Linked DNA regions of Homo sapiens: region 1 is linked to region 2. Evidence: fine-mapped expression QTL. A gene starts in region 2. The other region holds a variant in brackets. All regions are shown on one strand. Distances are between the middles of the regions. Region 1 overlaps CNTRL (centriolin). Region 2 holds the start of CNTRL (centriolin).

Region 1 (11,856 bases), 56 kb before region 2:
TCTTAAAACAATGGTCACAAGAGAACAGGAGCTATGGTGCTGCTCCACCCAGAATTCCCTTTTTTCTAGTAATTCAAATTGCTTACTACATGTTAGAGCAGGTTGCTAAGTGCCTGACTAAAGATATCATCATCTTTGGGTGTTCTGTGTAAGAATGTATTCTAAAACAACAAATCTCTACCTGCAAGTGTTTAAGTTTTGCATGGAGCTCACTGTTCTCTTGCTCCTTTTCTTCTGAGAACTGGGCTTTTCCAAGGGCATTCTTGAGGGCTTGCCTTTCCTTCTCAAGTTCTGCTTGAAGGGCTGATTGTTCTAACTGTCACCATAGGAAGCAATGACATGAAAGTGTAAAACAGCAATAATTTATGATTTTAAAAGGCACAAATAAATTTACATATACACACAATCCCTTGCTAGCTATAGTTTTACAACTCAATTTTATGTTTGTACTCCCAAATTTAAAAACCAAAGATAATTTTTTCACACAATCCTTAAACTATTATTAACACTTAAGAAGGAGTAAGCATCAGAATCAGCTCAGCCCAAATACACCAAATCAGAATCTTCAGGGGTGGGCCGAGGCACCTACCTTTAAAAGTTCTGCAAGTGATCCAACAATTATTGCTCTCCTTTCCCTTAGACTAGTATTTCTCAAACTGTGGTCCTCAAAAAAACTGTATCAACACTAGGTATGTCTGTTAAAAATGCAGACACCTAAACTCTATCTCAGAAAAGAGATTCTGGATCAGAATCTCTAGAGTGGGTGGGGCCAAGGAATCTGTATTTATCAAGCATCACAAGTGAGTTCATGCAACTAAAGTTTACCAATCAGAGATCTGTAGATCTTCAGATCAGAGACAGGAGATCTGTTATGCTTCATATTCTCAATGTGTGGTTTGAAGACCAATCCTGGCAGTCTTGGTGCTGAGGGAGGGGGAATGTCCCTTTCAATACCAAGTGAATTGGTGAAAAGGCCAGGCTCTTAAAATAATTTTGTCAAGACTTATGAGAAGAAAATAAAAGCCAATCAAAGTACAAAGGACAGTGTATTTCAAGCTAGTACAGTCTGGCTTGAAAAGAGGAGAATTTATTAAGGAAAATGCCATCTAGAAATTTTATTTATTATTATTTTAAAATATTTACTGTTATTTTAATTGTTTTCCTAAAACCTCCTGATTTCTGAGACTCTGATCTTGTCAACTATACTTCTACAAAACTCGGTACTCGAGAAATACAATCCTGACAACTGTCAAGTGATGATCTGATATCTCATAAGTAAAGAAATATACATAATTACTATAATAAACCAGATATATTTCTAGTTCCTTTTCTAACCATATGAATTATTTTTACATGCATTCCTGAGATTCAAAATATCTTATTTATTTCATTTTCATCAAATAGGCACATATTGACGCTTCTCATATGCCAGGCACAGAAAAAGCAGAAACAAACAGATACAATTTGGGCATTCACTGAGCTCTGAGTCTAGCTGGGGTAAAACAAACAGATCATCTAGGAGCATCTAAACAGATGATCATCATATGCATGATAAATACCTTTACTGTGCACAGGTTATAGGAAAACCAAAGTAGAGTCCTGAACCCAGATTTTCAGCAGGCAGAAAGGAAAGGTTGAGGTGGGCTTCCTGAAAGAAGATGCAGCTCATCTGGCTAATAAATTGTATTTTTAATCTGATAAAGAATATATTACAACTGGCCTCTGCCTGCCTCTCTGCCTTTACCTCTCATTCTCTTTCCTCACTCCTCTCCCTGCTCCTGGCATCCTGGAGGCATACGTTCAGCACTTCAAATGTACTATATGCTCTCTCTCCTCACCTCTCTGCCTAGAATACAAATACCTTACCTTTACTCCTTTCACCCTGTCCCCTCTGCGTGGCCAAATCCTACTCATCCATCAGCCATCAGCTGAAACATCATTTCTGTAGGGTGGTCTTCCCTGACTACTTCCTCCTTGGCCAAAGAATCCTGTCCCTTTCTTTCTTCCATACCTGTTTCACTTGCTGGACTAAAGTTTACCAATCAGAGATCTGTCAGCTCCACAGGATGGTGACCATGTCTGTGCTTTCCCTAGAGAATCCACAGTACCTGGCCCTCAATGGCCAATCAATAAATATTTATTGGATATGTTTTCTGTAACTTGCAAGTATAATTTAAACTAGTGGATCTTTCAACCAACCCTAAAAGGAGACAGCAAACTACAACTTATCATCAACCTAAAAGAGGTCTCGGCCAGGCACGGTGGCCCATGCCTGTAATCCCAGCACTTTGGGAGGCTGAGGTGGGTGGATCGCCTGAGGTCGGGAGTTTGTAGACCAGCCTGACCAACATGGTGAAACCCCATCTCTACTAACATACAAAAAATTGGCCAGGCATGGTGGCGCGCACCTGTAGTCCCAGCTACTCAGGAGGCTGAGGCAGGAAAATCACTTGAACCCAGGAGGCGGAGGTTGCAGTGAGCCGTCATCATGCCACTGTACTCCAGCCTAGCAACAGAGCAAGACTCTGTCTCAAAAAAAAAAGTCCTTAAACCTGTTCTAAGAAGGAAAAACTAGCATTTATTGAGTATCAACTGTCAGGTGCTTTCATGTCCATTATCTCATTTATCTTCCCCATAAGCCATTTTACACAGGAGGAAAAGGCTGGGAGGCTCAGAGCTATGAACTGATTTGCCCGTGTTCACACAGGGGTAGTTATTAGCACTCACAATGTCTGACTCCAAAATTCTGCCTTTCCCATCACTCCATATATATTGTATGAAAAAACGCTTAATTTTAAATTAAGACATAAATAAAAGAAGGATGATATCTTAAGGCACAGGGTCCTTAGTTTGCAGTTGGCTTCATGCTCCTACTTACCTGGGTAAGTCTTGTTACTTTTTCCAACTCTTCCTTGAGCTGGTTGGCTTCAGCATCCCTTAGGTTTAGCCGAGCCTCTAGCTCAGCTTCATAGGCACTGAGATCTCCCTGGGTCTGCTGCAAAGATGCATTCACCTCATGCTGCTCTTGGAGGGCACTTTCTAGCTCTGCAAGCTCCTAGAAAGATTCAGTGGGTTTAACTATGGAACCCTCACTGTGCTGCTTAAGCATTTGCAAGGCATTATAAGTAACTTGAGCACTGTAAACCAAATGCTGGCCAGCTACTGATGCCTGCCACAAAGTTTTCAGTAGCAATATGACGAAGCCTCAGGTTGTGCATATCCTGGTTGGAAAACAAAACCCTGGCTAAATGTAATCAAGAAAGTCAGTAAGCTCCCAACATATTGTTTTTCAAAGGGACCAGTTCTGTGATACTTATGAGTCTAAAAACATAAGGAGGAAGAAAGGAAGGAAAAAAAGAGTAGGATAAGATTTAATGCTTATTTTTCATCTGATGTTGGACAAAATGTTTTCATATTCATTATTTCATTGTATCTTCACAATAACTGTATAAGGCAACTTGCGGTTTTACAGATGAGGAATTGTAGAATGAATATCTAAGTAAATTGCACAGGGCTATGTAGCTAGAAAAAGGATAGTCAGCATACAAATGTAGATCTCCGACTCCAAAGCCCATACTCTCTCTATTAAACCATAGCATGTTCATTTATCAGAAGAACAAAATGGGACCGGCACTCTCTAATATTAAGGATGATAAGAGTACCTTAAATGAGTGCTAACAAGAATATAAGTACATATTTATTAGCATACCATGGTTCTGATTCATTTTAGTCCATTTGTGTTTTGTGATTAAACCTTATCTCTTTCATCTATTTACTTGGGATCAAACTATTACAGATTAAAGAGGAGGATTCTACGATGAGAACTTCTACAAAAGAATTGTCCAAAAACCACTTGGCAATTCAATCATTTGGGCTGCTTGTTTAAAATATAGATACTACATATAACCAACCAAAGATTATTATCCAGAATATGTAAAGAATTCCTACAAATCTTTAAGAAAAGGCAGAGACAGTTCAACAAAAAATAGAATAGGGAATTCACTCAAGAGGAAACTTGAACAGCAAATGAAAGGTGATCAGCCTCTCCAGTAACCAGGGGAAAATGCAGTTAACTTAAGATACTATTTTACATAGAACATAGAGATACAAGTTAAACACACCATGAGGAAACAATCAGTCAAACCCAGAACGTGGTTCAATCTACAGAATACCAGCCTGGATTTCACACACGCATGTGCACACACACACACATTCTTGGGACAATCAAGAAAATCTGAATATGGTTCAGATATTAGAGGACCTTAGGGCCGGGTACAGTGGCTCATGCCTGTAATCCCAGCACTTTGGGAGGCCAAGGCGGGTGGATCACGAAGTCAGGAGATTGAGACCATCCTGGCCAACATGGTGAAACCTATCTCTACCAAAACACACACACAAAAAAATTAGCCAGGCGTGGTGGCACACGCCTGTAGTCCCAGCTACTTAGGAGGCTGAGGCAGCGGAATCACTTGAACCTGGGAGGCGGAGGTTGCAGTGAGCGAAGATCATGCCACTGCATTCCCAGCCTGGTGACAGAGCAAGACTCCATCTCAAAAAAAAAAAAAAATAATAATGATATTAGAGGACATTAGGGAATTACCGTCATTTTTCTTAGGTGTAATAATGATATCGTAGTGATGCAGGAAAATGCTCTTAAAAAAATGTGTGTTGAAGGGATGATGTTATGATATCTACAACTTTCTAATGAGCAAAGGAAAAAAGTATGTGTCTATGAGAAAGAGAAAATAAATAAATCAAAATATTTATTGAATCCAAGAGGTTCACAGATGTTCACCAAACTATTTGTTCAACTTTCTTGTAACTGTAAACATCTTCACAATAGAAAGATGGAAAGAAGTCCTTTAAAGCTCAGCAGACTGGCAAACATGAAGTCTGATAAAATACTGAATTTCCTAAATTTGATAATTATTCTGTGTTTATGTTAGAAAATGTCCTTGTTCATAGGAAATACATACTGAAATATTTAGAAGCAAAGGAGCATGATGTCTACAACTGATTTCCAAATGGTTCAGGAAAAAAAATCTGTATAAAAATATATATAAAATTGAATCCCGTTCCGAGATGGCCAAATAGGAACAGCTTGGTCTGCAGCTCCCAGCGTGATCGACGCAGACGACGGGTGATTTCTGCATTTCCAACTGAGGTACCTGGTTTATCTCATTGGCACTGATTGGACAGTGGGTGCAGCCCATGGAGGGCGACCCGAAGCAGGGCAGGGCATCGCCTCACCCAGGAAATGCAAGGCGTCGGGGGATTTCCCTTTCCTAGCCAAGGGAAGCCGTACATTCACAGAAGACAGTACCTGGAAAAACAGGACACTCTCACCCAAATACTGTGCTTTTCCAATGGTCTTAGCAAACAGCACACCAGGAGATCATATCCCACACCTGGCTCAGCAGGTCCCATGCTCACAGAGCCTTGCTCACTGCTAGTGTAGCAGTCTGAGATAGACCTTGGAGGCAGCAGCCTGGCAGGGGGAGGGGCGTTCACCATTGCTGAGGCTTGAGTAGGTAAACACAGCAGCCAGGAAGCTCGAACTGGGCGGAGCCCACCGCAGCTCAGCAAGACCTCTGCCTCTACA[T/G]GTAGACTCCACCTTTAGGAGCAGGGCATAGCTGAACAAAAGGCAGCAGAAACTTCTGCAGACTCAAACGTCCCTGTAGGACAGCTCTGAAGAGAGCAGTGGTTCTCCCAGCACAGTGTTTGAGCTCAGAGAACGGACAGACTGCCTCCTCAAGTGGGTCCCTGACCCCCGTGTAGCCTAACTGGGAGACACCTCCCAGTAGGGGCCAACTGACACATCATACAGGCGGGTGCCCCTCTGGGAAGAAGCTTCCAGAGGAAGGATTAGGCAGCAATATTTGCTGTTCTGCAGCCTCTACTTGTGATACCGAGGCAAACAGGGTCTGGAGTGGACCTCTAGCAAACTCCAACAGACCAGCAGCTGAGGGACCTGACTGTTAGAAGGAAAACTAACAAACAGAAAGGAATAGCCTTAACATCAACAAAAAGGACATCCACACCAAAACCCCATCTGGAGGTAGACCAAAGACCAAAGGCCAAAGGTAGATAAAACCACAAAGATGGGGAGAAACCACAGCAGAAAAGCTGAAAATTCTAAAAACCGAGCGCCTCTTCTCCTCCAAAGGATGGCAGCTTCTCACCAGCAACAGAACAAAGCTGGATGGAGAATGACTCTGATGAGCTGACAGAAGTAGGCTTCAGAAGGTCAGTAATAACAAACTTCTTCAAGCTAAAGGACGATGTTTGAACCCATTGAAAGGAAGCTAAAAACCTTGAAAAAAGATTAGACGAATGGCTAATTAGAATAAAGAGTGTAGAGAAGACCTTAAATGACCTGATGGAGCTGAAAACCATGGCATGAGAACTACGTAACACATGCACAAGCTTCAGTAGCCAATTTGATCAAGTGGAAGAAAGGGTATCAGTGACTGAAGATCAAATTAACGAAATAAAGCAAGAAGAGAAGTTTAGAGAAAAAAGAGTAAAAAGAAATGAACAAAGCCTCCAAGAAATATGGGACTATGTGAAAAGACCAAATCTACGTTTGAATGGTGTACCTGAAAAGTGACAGGGAGAATGGAACTAAGTTGGAAAACACTCTTCAGGATATTATCCAGGAGAACTTCCCTAACCTAGCAAGGCAGGCCAACATTCAAATTCAGGAAATACAGAGAACACCACAAAGATACTCCTCGAGAAGAGCAACTCCAAGACACATAATTGTCAGATTCCCTAAGGTTGACATGAAGGAAAAAATGTAAGGGCAGCCAGAGAGAAAGGCTGGGTTACCCACAAAGGGAAGCCCATCAGACTAACAGCAGATCTCTCAGAAACTCTACAAGCCAGAAGAGAGTAGAGGCCAATATTCAACATTCTTAAAAGAAAATAATTTTCAACCCAGAATCTCATATTCAACCAAACTAAGCTTCATGAGTGAAGGAGAAATAAAATCCTTTACAGACAAGCAAATGCTGAGAGATTTTGTCACCACCAGGCCTGCCTTACAAGAGCTCCTGAAGGAAGCACTAAACATGGAAAGGAACAACCCGTACCAGCCACTGCAAAAACATGCCAAATTGTAAAGACCATCAATGCCAGGAAGAAACTGCATCAACTAACGGACAAAATAACCAGCTAGCATCATAACAACAGGATCAAATCCACACATAACAATATTAACCTTAAATGTAAATGGGCTAAATGCCCCCAATTAAAAGACACAGACTGGCAAATTGGATAAAGAGTCAAGACCCATCAGTGTGCTATATTCAGGAGACCCATCTCATGTGCAGAGACACACATAGGTTCAAAATAAAGGAATGGAGGAAGATCTACCAAGCAAATGGAAAGCAAAAAAAAGCAGGGCCTGCAATCCTAGTCTCTGATAAAACAGACTTTAAACCAACAAAGATCAAAAGCGACAAAGAAGGGTATTACATAATGGTGAAGGGATCAATTCAACAAGAAGGGCTGACTATCCTAAACATATATGCACCCAATACAGGAGAACCCAGATTCATAAAGCAAGTCCTTAGAGACCTACAAAGAGACTTAGACTCCTACACAATAATAATGGGAGACTTTAACACCCCACTGTCAATATTAGACAGATCAACAAGACAGAAGGTTAACAAGGATATCCAGGAATTGAACTCAGCTCTGCACCAAGCAGACCTAATAGATATCTACAGAATTCTCCACCCCAAATCAACAGAATATACATTCTTCTCAGCACCACATCTCACTTATTCCAAAATTGACCACATAGTTGGAAGTAAAGCACTCCTCAAAAAATGTAAAAGAACAGAAATCACAACAAACTGTCTCTCAGACCACAGTGCAATCAAATTAGAACTCAGGATTAAGAAACTCACTCAAAACCACTCAACCACATGGAAACTAAACGACCTGCTCCTAATGACTACTGGATACACAATGAAATGAAGGCAGAAATAAAGATGTTCTTTGAAACCAATGAGAACAAAGACACAACATACCAGAATCTCTAGGACACATTTAAAGCAGTGTGTAAAGGGAAATGTATAGCACTAAATGCCCACAAGAGAAAGCAGGAAAGATCTAAAATCAATACCCTAACAACACAACTAAAAGAACTAGAGAAGCAAGAGCAAACACATTCAAAAGCTAGCAGAAGGCAAGAAACAACTAAGATCAGAGCCAAACTAAAGGGGATAGAGACACAAAAAACCCTTCAAAAGAATCAGTGAATCCAGGAGCTGGTTTTTTGAAAAGATCAACAAAATAGATAGACCGCTAGCAAGACTAACAAAGAAGAAAAGAGGGTAGAATCAAATAGATGCAATAAAAAATGATAAAGAGGGTATCACCACCAATCCCACAGAGATACAAACTACCATCAGAGAATACTATAAACACCTTTATGCAAATAAACTAGAAAATCTAGAAGAAATGGATAAATTCCTGGACACATACACCCTCCCAAGACTAAACCAGGAAGAAGTTGAATCTCTGAATAGACCAATAACAGGATCTGAAATTGAGGCAATAATTAATAGCCTACCAACCAAAAAAACTCCAGGACCAGATGGATTCACAGCTGAATTCTACCAGAGGTACAAAGAGGAGCTGGTACCATTCCTTCTGAAACTCTTCCAATGAATAGAAAAAGAGGGAATCCTAACTCATTTTATGAGGCCAGCATCATCCTGATACCAAAGCCTGGCAGAGACACAACAAAAAAAGAGAATTTTAGACCAATATCCCTGATGAATATCGATGTGAAAATCCTCAATAAAATACTGGCAAACCGAATCCAGCAGCACATCAAAAAGCTTATCCACCACGATCAAGTCGGCTTCATCCCTGGGATGCAAGGCTGGTTCAACATACACAAATCAATAAACATAATCCATCACATAAACAGAACTAATGACAAAAACCACATGATATCTCAATAGATGCAGAAAAGGCCTTCAACAAACTTCAATTGCCCTTCATGCTAAAAACTGTCAATAAACTAGGTATTGATGGCACGTATCTCAAAATAATAAGAGCTATTTATGACAAACCCACAGCCAATATCATACTGAATGGGCAAAAACTGGAAGCATTCCCTTTGAAAACTGGCACAAGACAGGGATGCCCTCTCTCACCACTCCTATTCAACATAGTGTTGGAAGTTCCGGCCAGGGCAATCAGAAAAGAGAAAGAAATAAAGGGTATTCAATTAGGAAAAGAGGAAGTCAAATTGTCTCAGTTTGCAGATGACATGATTGTATATTTAGAAAACCCCATCGTCTCAGCCAAAATCTCCTTAAGCTGATATGCAACTTCAGCAAAGTCTCAGGATACAAAAATCAATGTGCAAAAATCACATGCATTCCTATACACCAATAATAGACAGAGAGCCAAATCGTGAGTGAACTCCCATTCACAATTGCTACAAAGAGAGTAAAATACCTAGGAATCCAACTTACAAGGGATGTGAAGGACGTCTTCAAGAACTACAAACCACAGCTCAACAAAATAAAAGAGGACACAAACAAATGGAAGAACATTCCATGCTCATGGGTAGGAAGAATCAATACCGTGAAAATGGCCATACTGCCCAAGGTAATTTATAGATTCAATGCCATTCCCATCAAGCTACCAATGACTTTCTTCACAGAGTTCGAAAAAACTACTTTAAAGTTCATATGGAACCAAAAAAGAGCCTGCATTGCCAAGACAATCCTAAGCAAAAAGAACAAAGCTGGAGGCATCACGCTACCTGACTTTAAACTATACTACAAGGCTACAGTAAACAAAACAACATGGTACTGGTACCAAAACAGATATATAGACCAATGGAACAGAACAGAGACTGCAGAAATAAATAACACCACACATCTACAACCATCTGATCTTTGACAAACCTGACAAAAACAAGAAATGGGGAAAGGATCACTAATAAATGGTGCTGGGAAAACTGGCTAGCCATATGTAGAAAGCTGAAACTGGATCTCTTCCTTACACCTTATACAAAAATTAATTCAAGATAGATTAAAGACTTACATGTTAGACCTAAAACCATAAAAATCCTAGAAGAAAACCTAGGCAATACTATTCAGGACATAGGCATGGGCAAGGACTTCATGACTAAAACACCAAAAGCAATGGCAACAAAAGCCAAAATAGACAAATGGGATCTAATTAAACCAAAGAGCTTCTGCACAGCAAAAGAAACTACCATCAGAGTGAACAGGCAACCTACAGAATGGGAGAAAATTTTTGCAATCTGCTCATCTGACAAAGGGCTAATATCCAGAATCTACAAAGAACTTAAACAAATTTACAAGAAAAAAACAACCCCATCAAAAAGGGGGCAAAGGATACGAATAGACATTTCTCAAAAGAAGACATTTATGCAGCCAACAGACACATGAAAAAATGCTCATCATCACTGGCCATCAGAGAAATGCAAATCAAAACCACAATGAGATACCATTTCACACCAGTTAGAATGGTGATCATTAAAAAGTCAGGAAACAACAGATGCTGGAGAGGATGTGGAGAAACAGGAATGCTTTTACACTGTTGGTGGGAGTGTAAACTAGTTCAACCTTTGTGGAAGACAATGTGGCGATTCCTCAAGGATCTAGAACTAGAAATACCATTTGACCCAGCGATCCCATTACTGGGTATATACCCAAAGGATTATAAATCATGCTACTATAAAGACACATGCACACATGTGTTTATTGCGGCACTATTCATAATAGCAAAAACTTGGAACCAACCCAAATGTCCATCAACGATAGACTGGATTAAGAAAATGCAGCACATATAAACCATGGAATACTATGCAGCCATAAAAAAGGATGAGTTCATGTCCTTTGCAGGGACATGGATGCAGCTGGAAACCATCATTCTTTGCAAACTATCACAAGGACAGAAAACCAAACACCGCATGTTCTCACTCATAGGTAGGAACTGAATAATGAGAACACTTGGACACAGGGCAGGGAACATCACACACCGGGGCCTGTCGTGGGGTGGGGGGAGGGGGGAGGGATAGCATTAGGAGATATACCTAATGTAAATGACGAGTTAATGGGTGCAGCAAACCAACGTGAAACATGTATACCTATGTAACAAATCTGCATGTACCCTAGAACTTAAAGTATAATAATAATTAAAAAGTATATAAAATCATGTAGAAATTACATATGAGGAGATAAAGCAAATGTGTTAAAATAGTAATTGGTGACTCTCGGTGAAAGGCAAATGTGAGTTATTTGTATTCCTCTTGCAACTTTCCTGCAAGTTTGGAGTTATTTCAAAATATAAGCTTTAAAAAAAAGTTGGACAACACTACAGCGTTGGCAAGGATGTGGCAAGAATGGTAGCCCCCACATTGCTGGTGGGAGTAGAAGCTGATAAACTCACTATGAAAAGTAATTTGACAATATCTACTGAACTTAATGAAGGATGGACATACTCTGACCCACAGTTCTGCTTCTGAGCATAGTCCCCATGTGTTCAAGATGTGTGCAGGAATGTTATGCTCAGCATTGTTTGCAATAGCATAACACTGGAAATCACCTAAATGCACCCCAAAAAGAGAAGGAATAAATAATAAATTTGTGGTATGTCCATAAAGCAGGATGGTACATATATCAGTAAAAATGAACAAAGTAGAACTACATCTATCAGTGTGCATAATTCTCGAAAACATAGGCCAGGCGCTGTGGCTCACACCTGTAATCCGAGCACTTTCAGAGGCCAAGGCAGGCGGATCACCTGAGGTCGGGAGTTCGAGACCAGCCTGACCAACATGGAGAAACCCCATCT
Region 2 (11,093 bases):
ATAATTTCTCTTTTAACCTATATATTTGATGTTCCTCCTGTTTCCTATCACATAGCTCTTAAAACCTTTGGGTTCTCCACAGTGATAAGAGTGTCTTTCGTTTACTAATAAGATGACTGGTGACACCCAGACAGCTTTGGGATGGGGGCCAGTCACCAGAAAGACTAAGGCATGTTTAGAGGGTTGGGACTTTAAGCCCAACCCCACAACCTTTAAGGAGGGGAGAGCAGCTAAAATTGATTTGATAACCAGTAGCCAATGATGTGAGCAATCACGCCTACATAAGTAAGCCTCCATAAAACCCCAAAAGGACAGGGTCCAGAGAACTTCCAATTAGCTGAACATGTGGAGGTGTCTGGAAGATGGCATGCTGGCGAGAGCATGAAAACTTCATACCCCTTTCCACGTACCTTGCCCTATGCAACTCTTCCTCTGGCTGTTTATTTTGTAATATCCTTTATAATAAATGGGAAAATGTAAGTAGTATTTCTCTGAGTTCTGTGACCCACTCAAGCAAATTAATTGAACCCAAGGAGGGGGCAGTGGGAGTCCCAATTTATAGCTTGGTGGTCAGAAGTATAGGTGGCAATCTACTACTTGTAATGGGCATCTGAAGTTGGTGGCACTCTTGTGGGACTGAGTCCTTAACCTGTGGGATCTGATGCTATCTTCAGGCAGACAGTGTCAGAATTGAACTGAATAAGAGGACATGCAGCTGGTGTCCACTGAAGAAGTATCTGGTGTATGGGGCAACAACCCTTACATGTCTGATGTCACAAGTATTGTACTGTGTGGTACGGCAGTAGGAAGAACATTTTGAGTTTTTCATATCTCTATTAAAAGATAATATAACTTCACAAGCATATGGGTACATATAAGCTGTGATTATACAGAAACTTCCTGCAAACTCCCAGCTTTCTAACAGCTGGCCATAAAGAAATTAAGACTCTCATTCCATAGGGGTCCTACCCAATACCCAGGAGGAAGGAATGCTGCACAGAGAGGCCAAGAGAAATCTGGAGAGGTAGGTGTTGCTGAGTTTCCTCACTCAGTCTATTAGCGTTAGATCATACCCATTTTGTCCAATCCTATTTCTATACAGCTGTCCACACTTCACTAATCCTAAGCATAAAAACGGATAATTTTTTCTGCATTTTTTGGGTCTTCATTCTGAAGGCTCCCATGACACATAAAGCTTTGATCGAATAAATTTGCTATGCTTTTCTCTAGTCAACCTGTCTTTGTTACAGGGGTGTTGGCCATGACCTTTATGATGGGCCAGAAAGGAATTACTCCCTTTCCTCCCCTACAGAACTTATACAGTATATAAAGGAGAGATTACACTAATATAATCTATTAATATATTCAATTTTTGGAATTCCTCTTTGGATTCTGCTTTCAAACTAATTCTTAAGTCTCACAAGAAAATCGGGTCCATCGCTTCAGGTACACTTTGTTTTTATTTTCCCAGTTTGATCACTAACCTTACTCAGTAAATTTGACTCCATATGAATTTTGTCTACTTCCAAAAATTTAATGAAAAGATGATGATTGAAGTTAATTCTAAAGAATATCATACTAGTGGCTAACATTTACTGAGGGCTTACCACGCACCAAATATTGTGATATTTCGTCAGGCACGGTATGTATACTTGCAGTCCCAGTTACTCCAGAGGATGAGGCAGGAGGATTGCTTGATCCCAGGAGCTCCAGGCTACAATGTGCTATGATCAACCTTGTGACTGGCCACTGCACTGCAGCCTGGGAAACACAGGGAGCCCCTGTCTCTAAAAAACAGACAGACAAATATATGTTGTGATAAGCTCTTTATGTGTATCATCATATTGAAAGAATTGAATACAACAACTCTATGAGATAAGTGTTATTTCCCATTTTACAGATGAAGATCTTAAATAATTTGTCCAAAATTCCTTAACTAATTGGTTTAGCCAAAACTTGAAATGTGATTTAATTCAAAACCCATGTTTTTAATGACCATGTCATATAGCTATCTGAGTTTCCTGGAGTCTAGATTATGTTTCCTTTGTTCTCTATGGCCTAGCATGATGCCATGGGCGGCAGGTGCCTGTAATCCCAGCTACTTGGGAGGTTGAGGAACAAAAATCACTTGAACTGGGGAGGTGGAGGTTGCGATGAGCCAAGATCGTGCCCCTGCGCTCCACCCTGGGCAACAGAGTGAGACTTCATCTCAAAAAAACAAAACAAAAAAAATCCTGAAGGAAACCCAGAAAATTTTATACAAAGAAAGGATCTCTGATATCATGATCCGGTCTCTCAAGGTGAGTAGTTTGAAAGGAATAAAAACCCCGTCTTTTTTTGTTTTTAAAAAGTTGATTATTATTTCACATACATTACAATATAGCCAAATGCCCCATTCCAATAGCCTCATTCACTACAGGTTAAGCACTCCAAATCTGAAAATCTGAAATATTTAAATATAAATGTAAAAAATATAAACAAGTATAAAGCAAATATTCCAAAATCCGAAAAAATCCAAAATCCAAGACACTTTTGATAGCAAGCATTTTGGACAAGAGATAATCAACCTGTACTTTATTTTTATTTTTTTGGAGGCAGCGTTTCACTATGTTGTCCAGGCTGATCTCGAACTCCTGAGCTCAAGCAATCCTCCCACCTCTACCTCCCAAAGTGTTAGGATTACAGGCATGAGCTACCACACCTGGCCTTCAACCTGTACTTCAAACTGTGAACTTAAATGTATCTGTACTTTTTCCTTCATTTTCTCATATTAAACTATACATATGGATCAGAAAAACTCCCCCAAGTTACATAACTGCTATTTATGCCATTTCCACAAGGCTTTTTGGTCTAAATTTCAAGCGTGGTAAACAATTTTTGTGCCTTATAACACAATTTTGCCATGGAAAAAAGTCTTTTAGTAATTTTAATATTATGAAATACATACTTAGTCTTAGTCCCTTTTGCTATCGTAAGTGTCTTTTTGTATACTAATGAGTTGACTGATGGCTAGCCACCTCTAGGCAGCTTCAGGATCGTGGCTGGTCACTAGAAAGAGGGAGGGGAGAGGGGCTAAAGGTTGAGTTGATCACCAATGGCCAATGATGTAATCAATCAGGCCTACATAATGAAGCCTCCATAAAAAGTTAAAAGACTGGGTTTGGGGAGCCTCCAGAAAGCTGGACACAGGGAGGGTCCTGGAGGGGAATCCACCCAGAGAGGGTGTGGAAGCTCTACGCCCCTTCCCACCTGCCTTACGCTATGCATCTTTTCACCTATATCCTTTGTAATATCTTTTATAATAAACCAGTAAATGTAAGTAAGTGCTCCCTGAATTCTGTGAGCTGCTCTAGCAAATTAATCAAACCCAAGGAGGGAGTTGTGGGAACTCTGATTTATAGCTGGTCAGTCAGAAGCACAGGTAAAACTGAGGCTTACAGTTGGCATCAGAACTTGGGGGCAGTCTTGTAAGCCAGCCTTCAACCTTAGGGATGTGACGCTGTCTCCAGGTAGACAGTGTCAGAATTGAACTGAACTAGAGGACAGTCCTGTGGTGCCCACCACTGCAGAACTAACTGCTTGCTTAATGTGTGGGGGAAAATCCTACGGAATCATGTTGTGAGCGTATAGTGGGAGAAATTGAGTTTAATCTGTAGTCTCAGTAATACTATTTTTTTCTTTTTTTGAGACAGAGTCCTGCTCTGTTGCCCAGGCTGGAGTGCGGTGGTGTGATCTCGGCTCACTATAACCTCCGCCTCCCAGGTTCAAGTGATTGTCCCGCCCCAACCTACTGAGTAACTGGGATTACAGGTGCACAGCACCACGCCCGGCTAATTTTTTTTATTTTTAGTAGAGATGAGGTTTTGCCATGCTGGCCAGGCTGGTCTCAAACTTCTGACCTCAGGTGATCCACCCACCTCGGCCTCCCAAAGTGCTGGGATTACAGCCACCATGCCCAGCCCTCAGTAATACTATTGATGCTGCTAAGCTGCACTGGCATTCTCCTTCTAAATAAGGATAATACTCTAAAATTTGAGAAAAGCTAAGAGGCATGTGCTTAGGTAAAATCTTATTCCTAATTAAATGGATTAAAAGATGACATTTATTATAGTATGTATAGTACGTAGTTGGCGTTTTTTTCCCCCCTGAGGCAAGGTCTTTCTCTGTCACCCAGGCTGGAGTGTAGTGGCATGCTCATGGCTCACAGCAACCTTGCCTTCCTGGGCTCAAGTGATCCTCCTACCTCAGCCTCCTGAGTAGCTGGGACTACAGGCGCATATAACCACGCTTGGCTAATTTTTTATTTTTTGTAGAGATGGGGGGTCTCACTATAGTTCCCAGGTTGGTCTTGAACTCCTGGGCTCAAGTGATCCTCCTGCCTCAGCCTCCCAAAGTGCTGGGATTACAGGTGTGAGCCACTGTGCCCAGCCTGTAGTTTTTACATCCTAATGATCAAGACCCTTTAGGTCTCACCAGACTATCATGAGGTCCTTTATTACCTCTCCTGATTAGTAAAAGTCAGGCTTACTCATTCATAGACTTAAACCCTTGGTTGCCACAGCTTCTGTAAAGCTTGGACACTGAAACAAGATAGACGTAATCAGTCTCAGAGAATAGCTAACTCAGTGAAGTGGGCTTAGGGGTTTACAGTGTTTGAGAATGGCTGGCATTATTTCTTAGGCTACTGCCTGGAGGTGGTAAATGCTGAATTATAATTTTAATGGAGAGATGAGGATGTAGTTTGATCTAGGATGTTGTTTGCAATCACATGAACAAAGACCAAGCAAGCAATGGAAAAATGAAGACAACTGAGAGGTAGGCTAGGGCGAGTAAAGGAGCAGGATAAAGAGAAAAAAAAAGCAAATAAAGTTCAGAGCTGCAGTTGTATTTTAAAGGCTGTCTGCAGAGCAAGAGAAAGCCATTGGAATGACATGATAATCAGAATCCTACGTCCAGGCAACAAAACACTACCCATCCTGCCACCTATAAACCCAGATAGTTGCTCTGATCTAACAATTCAGTCCATCACAGCTTAGTACAGACTGCAAACTCCACCTCCATCCAGCCTTTCCTAACCTTCCTAACTTCCCATCTTCTCTGATCTCCAAATAACGCAGACCTCCTTCTGTCTCTCTACAGACTCCCTAATATGCAAATACCCATCCCCATTTATTAACCCCCATATCCCTCTCCTTAGCCCTTTAATTGGATTTCAGTACTTTCCAAGTCTACTTCATCCCATACCCTCTGACCTACTGAAATACTTTTACTCCTTAATCTTCTCCTCCTTTCAAATATCCTGATTCCGATTCCTCTGCAAAGTCTCCAGCCATTTTTCTTTCCAAAGCCAATTCCCCCATTCTGTGCTGCCCACCCACCTCTGCCTCCCATTCTTCTTTATCCCATTCTGATTGCCAATTTTCCCACAAATTCTATCCCAGTTCCCTAACACAGTAATAGTCTCCCCCATTTCTCTATGGTTCTTTCCTGTGCCCAGACTCAACATTTCTCTATCCATCCAGACTTCCCAAGCTGCTCATCTCTCTTCACCCCAGAAAATACCCTGACATCCTAATGCGTTCCAATACTCTGACCTCCAATTACTCCCCTCCCTAAACAAAATACTCAAACCTCCATCCATTCCTCTTCATCCCAACCCAACTGCCTGCCTATTTGCCTTTCCATCCTAATACTCTAGCCCCCGTATCCTTCTCCATCCTATTAAAAGCCTGAATCCCCTCTCCCATCTCTCTTCTTCTGCTCAGATACCCTAAAACTCAAGCTTCCCATCTCTTTCCATTAATTATTCAATTTTATTGAGCAACTTTTATGTAGGAAGAACCATGCTAGAATCTAAGCTCAAGATGCAGAAGATTTTATCTCCCTATTACCCATGATCTCTGCACCAAGCAGTCTCCTTCATAGCATTTTATAACCATTATTTGTGAAACTACTTGGTTGTTGCCTGTTTCTCCTTCTAGACTATAAGCTACAAGAGAGCAGAGGTTTTGTCTGTTGTTCTATAAACAATAAATATTTGTTGACTGAAGGACTGTACTAAACACTTAGACAATACCAAATTTAAATCCTCAAAGATTTAGCTGTATAGGATCAGAATTATTAACCTGATTTACAAATGGCAATGTACCTGAACAGTTAAAAGCTTGGATTCTGGAACGAAACAGCCTGAGTTCAAATTCTGATTTTCCACTTACTGTGTGATCTTAGGCAAATTACTTAACCTCTCTGGTCCTCAGTGCTATCACTTTTTAAATGGGGATGATAACCTCATACAAGTTATTTTAAATTCTAAATGAGGTTAATACGTGCAAAGTGCTTAAAACTGGATCTGACAAATAGTGAACACCCAAAAATGATTCGCAATTATTTGGACAAATGAGGAAACATGATCAGGAAGGCTCAGACACATATCCAGGGTCACAGACCTGGTTAAGTTACACAAGGTGGCAGAATTGAGGCTTCAACCCAAGTTTGTCTGGCTTCAAAATTCTCTAGTCCCTTAACGAATATAACGGAAGTGTTTGTTCTTCCCCTTCTTTTAGCATTTCGTCCCCATATCCTGTCATCTTTCTCCACGCACTGTACTCCGTCCGATACCGTGACAACCCGTCAGGACGCCCAAACTGTCCTTTCTCCCGCTCACTCCCCACAGACAGCTGGCACATCCCAGCTCTCCCCTCAGCTCAGGTGGCAGGACCCACAACCTTCTGGGCGCCGCACCCTAACTTCCACACCTCCCCACACTCTGGTTCTTCATCCCCAATCGCCCCCGCCGTCCCCACCTCTTCCCATCCAAACCTCCCTCCTTCATCCACCGCCCCACGCCCGTTCCGGGCCCTCCCCTCTTTCCCGTCCAATCCCAATTCCCAGACACGCGCCCCCGCCCCGAATCCATCCCAAGCCGGCCCACACCACGCCCGGTCCGGGCCTTCCCGCCTTTGCCGCCGGCCCCCACTGCTCGGGCCGGATGCCGGGGAACGGGCTCGGCCAGGTCTGACGCTCACCGCCTAGAAGCCGAGCCGAGCAGTCCCGCAGGCTGAGGTAGAGCGGGAGAAGTTCGGGCTCTTTCCTCAGGGGCCCAGCGGCGCGGCAGCCATTTTGTTGTGTTGTGCCGGTTGCCGAGGGGCCGCGCGCGCGTGGTCGGGGCTAGTCTCAGCCACGCCCCTCTCCCTCTCCGGTACTGTTGGAAGGGACGCGGAGGCGTTTCCCGCCTCTTTTGCAGCCAGCGCGCTAGGATGCCGGGGAGTCTTGGGCGCGAGGCTTCCGGCCGCGCGGGGCCGACGGGATGCGGTGCCTTCGCCTTCGGATTGCGTTGCAGGTGAAGTGTCGGGTGCAGAGTCAGGGGGAGCCGAGGTTTCATGCGGCAGCTGCCCGCAGTGCTGTGGCCTTCGCTGAGACAAAGCTGCCGCCGCCACCCTCTGAAACACGGACACGCTTCTCAGGGCCTGTGTCCGAGGACGGCCTGAGGCACCGGCGCAGCGCCTCCCCGGCCTCCCCCACTTCTGATGCTTGCGCGCTATGAGCGAGTGTTCTTATCAGCACACTTCTCTCTGACAGTCGTATCTAAAGCGAATTCCCTCCAGGGACCGAACTGCCCAGGCTCGGATGAACCTCAAAGCGGACGCAGCCTGGGCTCCAGCTGTCGCGTGAGGTTCAGGGAGCTTGGGAATCCTAGGCAGAGGATGTTCCTCTGATTGCTACAAGGGAGTTAAAGCAAGAAGCACTTGCACAGGCTTCATCTGGGGCTTGCCCATGAGCACGGCGTTCACGACATGCATTCAACAGATATTTTAAAGAATTTAGCAGATACTGGGCTGGATGCTAGGGAAACACTGAAGTTTTTTTTAAAGTGTTATCACCATTGACGCCTTTCACTCCAGTAGCCTCCCGTTTTGAAGGTATACCCTGGACCATGTTACCATCAGAGGCTGCACCCGCTCCAGAAATCCCCAGTGCAATCGCTCCCCATCCTTGACTATAATCCTATCATCTTAGCAGCGTGCCTGCTCAAAAGACCCCTATGCCAGCGTATTTCTAAACTTCCTTGCGTCTTCCAGTCCCTTGTTCTTACCATTTTCTCGCGATCATTCTATCCTGTCTTCATTTCCTTTCTTCACTACAGAGTTTATAGGCCACCTGTATAACACTTTTAGAAACTCCCTCTCTCTCTGTGTCTCAGTTTCCTTATCTATGAAATGAGGTCCTTTTACCTATTAACACTTCCTACAGTTTTCCTGATAATTATAAAAGTGAATCCTGGCCGGGCGCTGTGGCTCATGCCTGTAATCCCAGCACTTTGGGAGACCAAGGTGGGAGGATCACTTGAGGTCAGGAATTCAAGATCAGCCTGGCCAACAAGGTGAAACGCCGTCTCTACTAAAAATACAAAAATTACCCGGGCGTGGTGGCGCACGCTTGTCATCCCAGCTGCTTGAGAGGCTGCAGGAGGATCGCTTGAACCCGGGAGGCGGAGGTTGCAGTGAGCCGAGATCGCGCCACTGCACTCCAGCCTGGACGACAGAGCGAGACTCCATCTCAAAAAAAAAAAAAAAAAAAAAAAGTCCAGTTTTCCTGATAATTATAAAAGTGAATCTCTGTGAAAGAACTTAGAACAGTGAGGGACCCATAGTAAGTTCTCAATATGTCTTAGATATTTCATTATTAGACAAAGGTTACCCAGAAGCAATACTTCTTTCTACGCCCAAAAGAAGAGTTTAGGCAAGGAGTAGGGAGGTGGGGAAGAATTTGCTTGGCAAAGGGAACAACTTGTGCAAACCCCGGAAGCGGGGGAAAAGAGCTTGGCAATGTGCTGAATGTTAAGTAATTCAGTGTGGCTGGAACAAAACATGAGTATGGAAACATGAAGTAGTTCAGTATGGCTTGTGCAAAAATCTGGGGTGGAGAAGCTAAATCTGGAAAAGGGACCATATTATAAGCAGTATTAGGCACTTCATTTTTCCTTAAGGCAGAGATGGCTTCACCTCTATAGGAAATTCAGGGGACGTCCAACAGGGAATAAGCTGCAATAAACATGGGGATGCAGATGTGTCTTTGATTTACTTTGATTTACTGATTTCCTTTTCCTTTTACTTAAATGTGATTCCCATTGACATTTAAGTGAATGGTGCTGTCCTCTCCCCAACTATTTACACGACACAGAACGAAGCCCTTGGAGTTTAAACGCAGAATTTTTGAAAAGCTCCACTTAAGAGGAGATTACATTCATTTTTTTTCTTTTCTTTTTTTTTTTTTTTTTTTTAATTTTTTGAACAGAGTCTGGCTCTGTCACCCAGGCTGGAGTGCAGTGGCAGGATCTCGGCTCAGTGCAACCTCCGCCTCCCGGGTTCAAGCGATTCTCCTGCCTCAGCCTCCCGAGGAGTTGGGATTACAGGCACGCACCACCAAGGCCAGCTAATTTTTGTATTTTAGTAGAAACAGAGTTTCACCATGTTGGTCAGGCTGGTCTCAATCTCCTGACCTCACGTGATCCGCCCGCCTCGGCCTCCCAAAGTGCTGGGATTACAGGCGTGAGCCACCGCGCCCTGCCGAGATTACATTCATTTTTAATCGAAGTTCAGGTGATATTTATTAGATTGGAATGTGTACGTTGCTGAGTTTCAGTTCTATTTGCATATGTTTTGACACCCATCGTTTCGGTTTCTTGTACCCAGAAACTTAGATTTATTGCGTAACCTCATTGCTGTGTCCCTCAAAGTCTGTAATGGTATTCACGTGGGATCCATTATCAAGCCGTGGTGTGCTGATGTAGTTCATTATCAATCATATTAGTATCAATTAATAGCCATCAAATATACATAAAAAGTCCAGAGGGTGGCGCAAAACACTTTTCTCTTGGGTGATCTCTCAGTCCGTATCCAGTTAGCCGCGGATGGGCACTCACCGGTCCCATGTTGCCCCCTTTTCCTCCTCATACAGACCTCTGCTGGTGTCTAGCATCATCTCTAACGAAGCTAGAGACTTCAAAGGAGAGACCTTTCTCCAGTTAATTTGAATATTAACTGTCTCTCTTAGCATGCTAAAAGAACTTCCTTCTCCAAAGCAGAAGTGAGAATACGAAAGTAACGCAGACAACTCGCGTTCCACACTATTTTTCTTTATCTGATATTATGAAGAATGTACTCTGAGTTGCATTTACAATACAAATATTAGCCACGTCAGGGTGACCAAGCTTTTACTCAGTCTTTTTTCCAAATGATAGCAAAGCTATTCTGTTTAAACTTCCCTCAGCTTTTTGCAACCCAGTTTAATCATTTTGCGAATTTGTTTTAGAGAAGAAACAGACTAGTTTGTCAGACAGGGATGGCAACTTTCATTATTGCCATTTCTTTCTGTGACTGGCCAGTGTGATTTTGTTGTTTTGTTTTTTAAGACAAGGTCTCACTCTGTCACCCAGGTTTCAGTGCAGTGACACAATCATAACTCACTGCAGCCTTGACTTCTCAGACTCAAGTGATCCTCCTCCCTCAGCCTCCCAAATAGCTCAGTCTATAGGTGTGCACCACCACACCTAGCTAATTTTTAAACTTTTTGTAAAGATGGGGTCTTGCTGTGTTGCCCAGGCTGGTCTTAAACTCCTGGGCTCAAGCGATCCTCCCACCTCAACCTCCCAAAGTGCTGGGATTACACGCATGAGCCAGCATGCCCAGCCTGATTTTTTTTTAATTTTTATTCATTTATTTTTTTTTGTTTTTGTTGGTGTGTTTTGTTTTTTGTTCTTGTTTTTGTTTTTTTGAGACAGAGTCTCACTCTGTTGCCCAGGCTGGAGTGCAGTAGCACGATCATGGCTCACTGCAACCTCCACCTCCAGGGTTCAAACAATTTTTGTGCCTTAGCCTCCCCAGTAGCTGTGATTACAGGTGTGTGACTCCACGCCCAGCTATTTTTGTGTATGTGTGTGTATTTTTAGTACAGACAGTGCTTCACCATGTTGATCAGGCTGGTCTTCAACTCCTGGCCTCAAGTATCCGCTTGCCTTGGTCCCCCAAAGTGCTAGGTTTGTAGGTGTGAGTCACCATACCCAACCTTAATTTTTATTTTTAAATGACATGTAG

The links.
Region 1: its variant is fine-mapped to the expression of CNTRL in whole blood (TOPMed, PIP above 0.99).

The regions. Positions count from the first base shown.
Region 1 is chr9:121,127,005-121,138,860 of GRCh38, reverse strand. CNTRL (centriolin) reads right to left here. Exons shown (of 44, transcript NM_007018.6): 15 at 2,879-3,055; 16 at 182-316. Among named protein-coding and RNA genes, the nearest start is that of CNTRL, 58 kb to the right of the region's middle. The variant T/G (reference allele first, on the strand shown) is at 5,603.
Region 2 is chr9:121,071,000-121,082,092 of GRCh38, reverse strand. CNTRL (centriolin) reads right to left here and starts at 7,138. Exons shown (of 44, transcript NM_007018.6): 1 at 7,026-7,138; 2 at 1,615-1,787. It also overlaps a transcript of C5 not described here. RefSeq lists silencers at 6,734-6,873, 6,994-7,053, 7,678-7,874 and enhancers at 7,174-7,563, 9,917-9,966.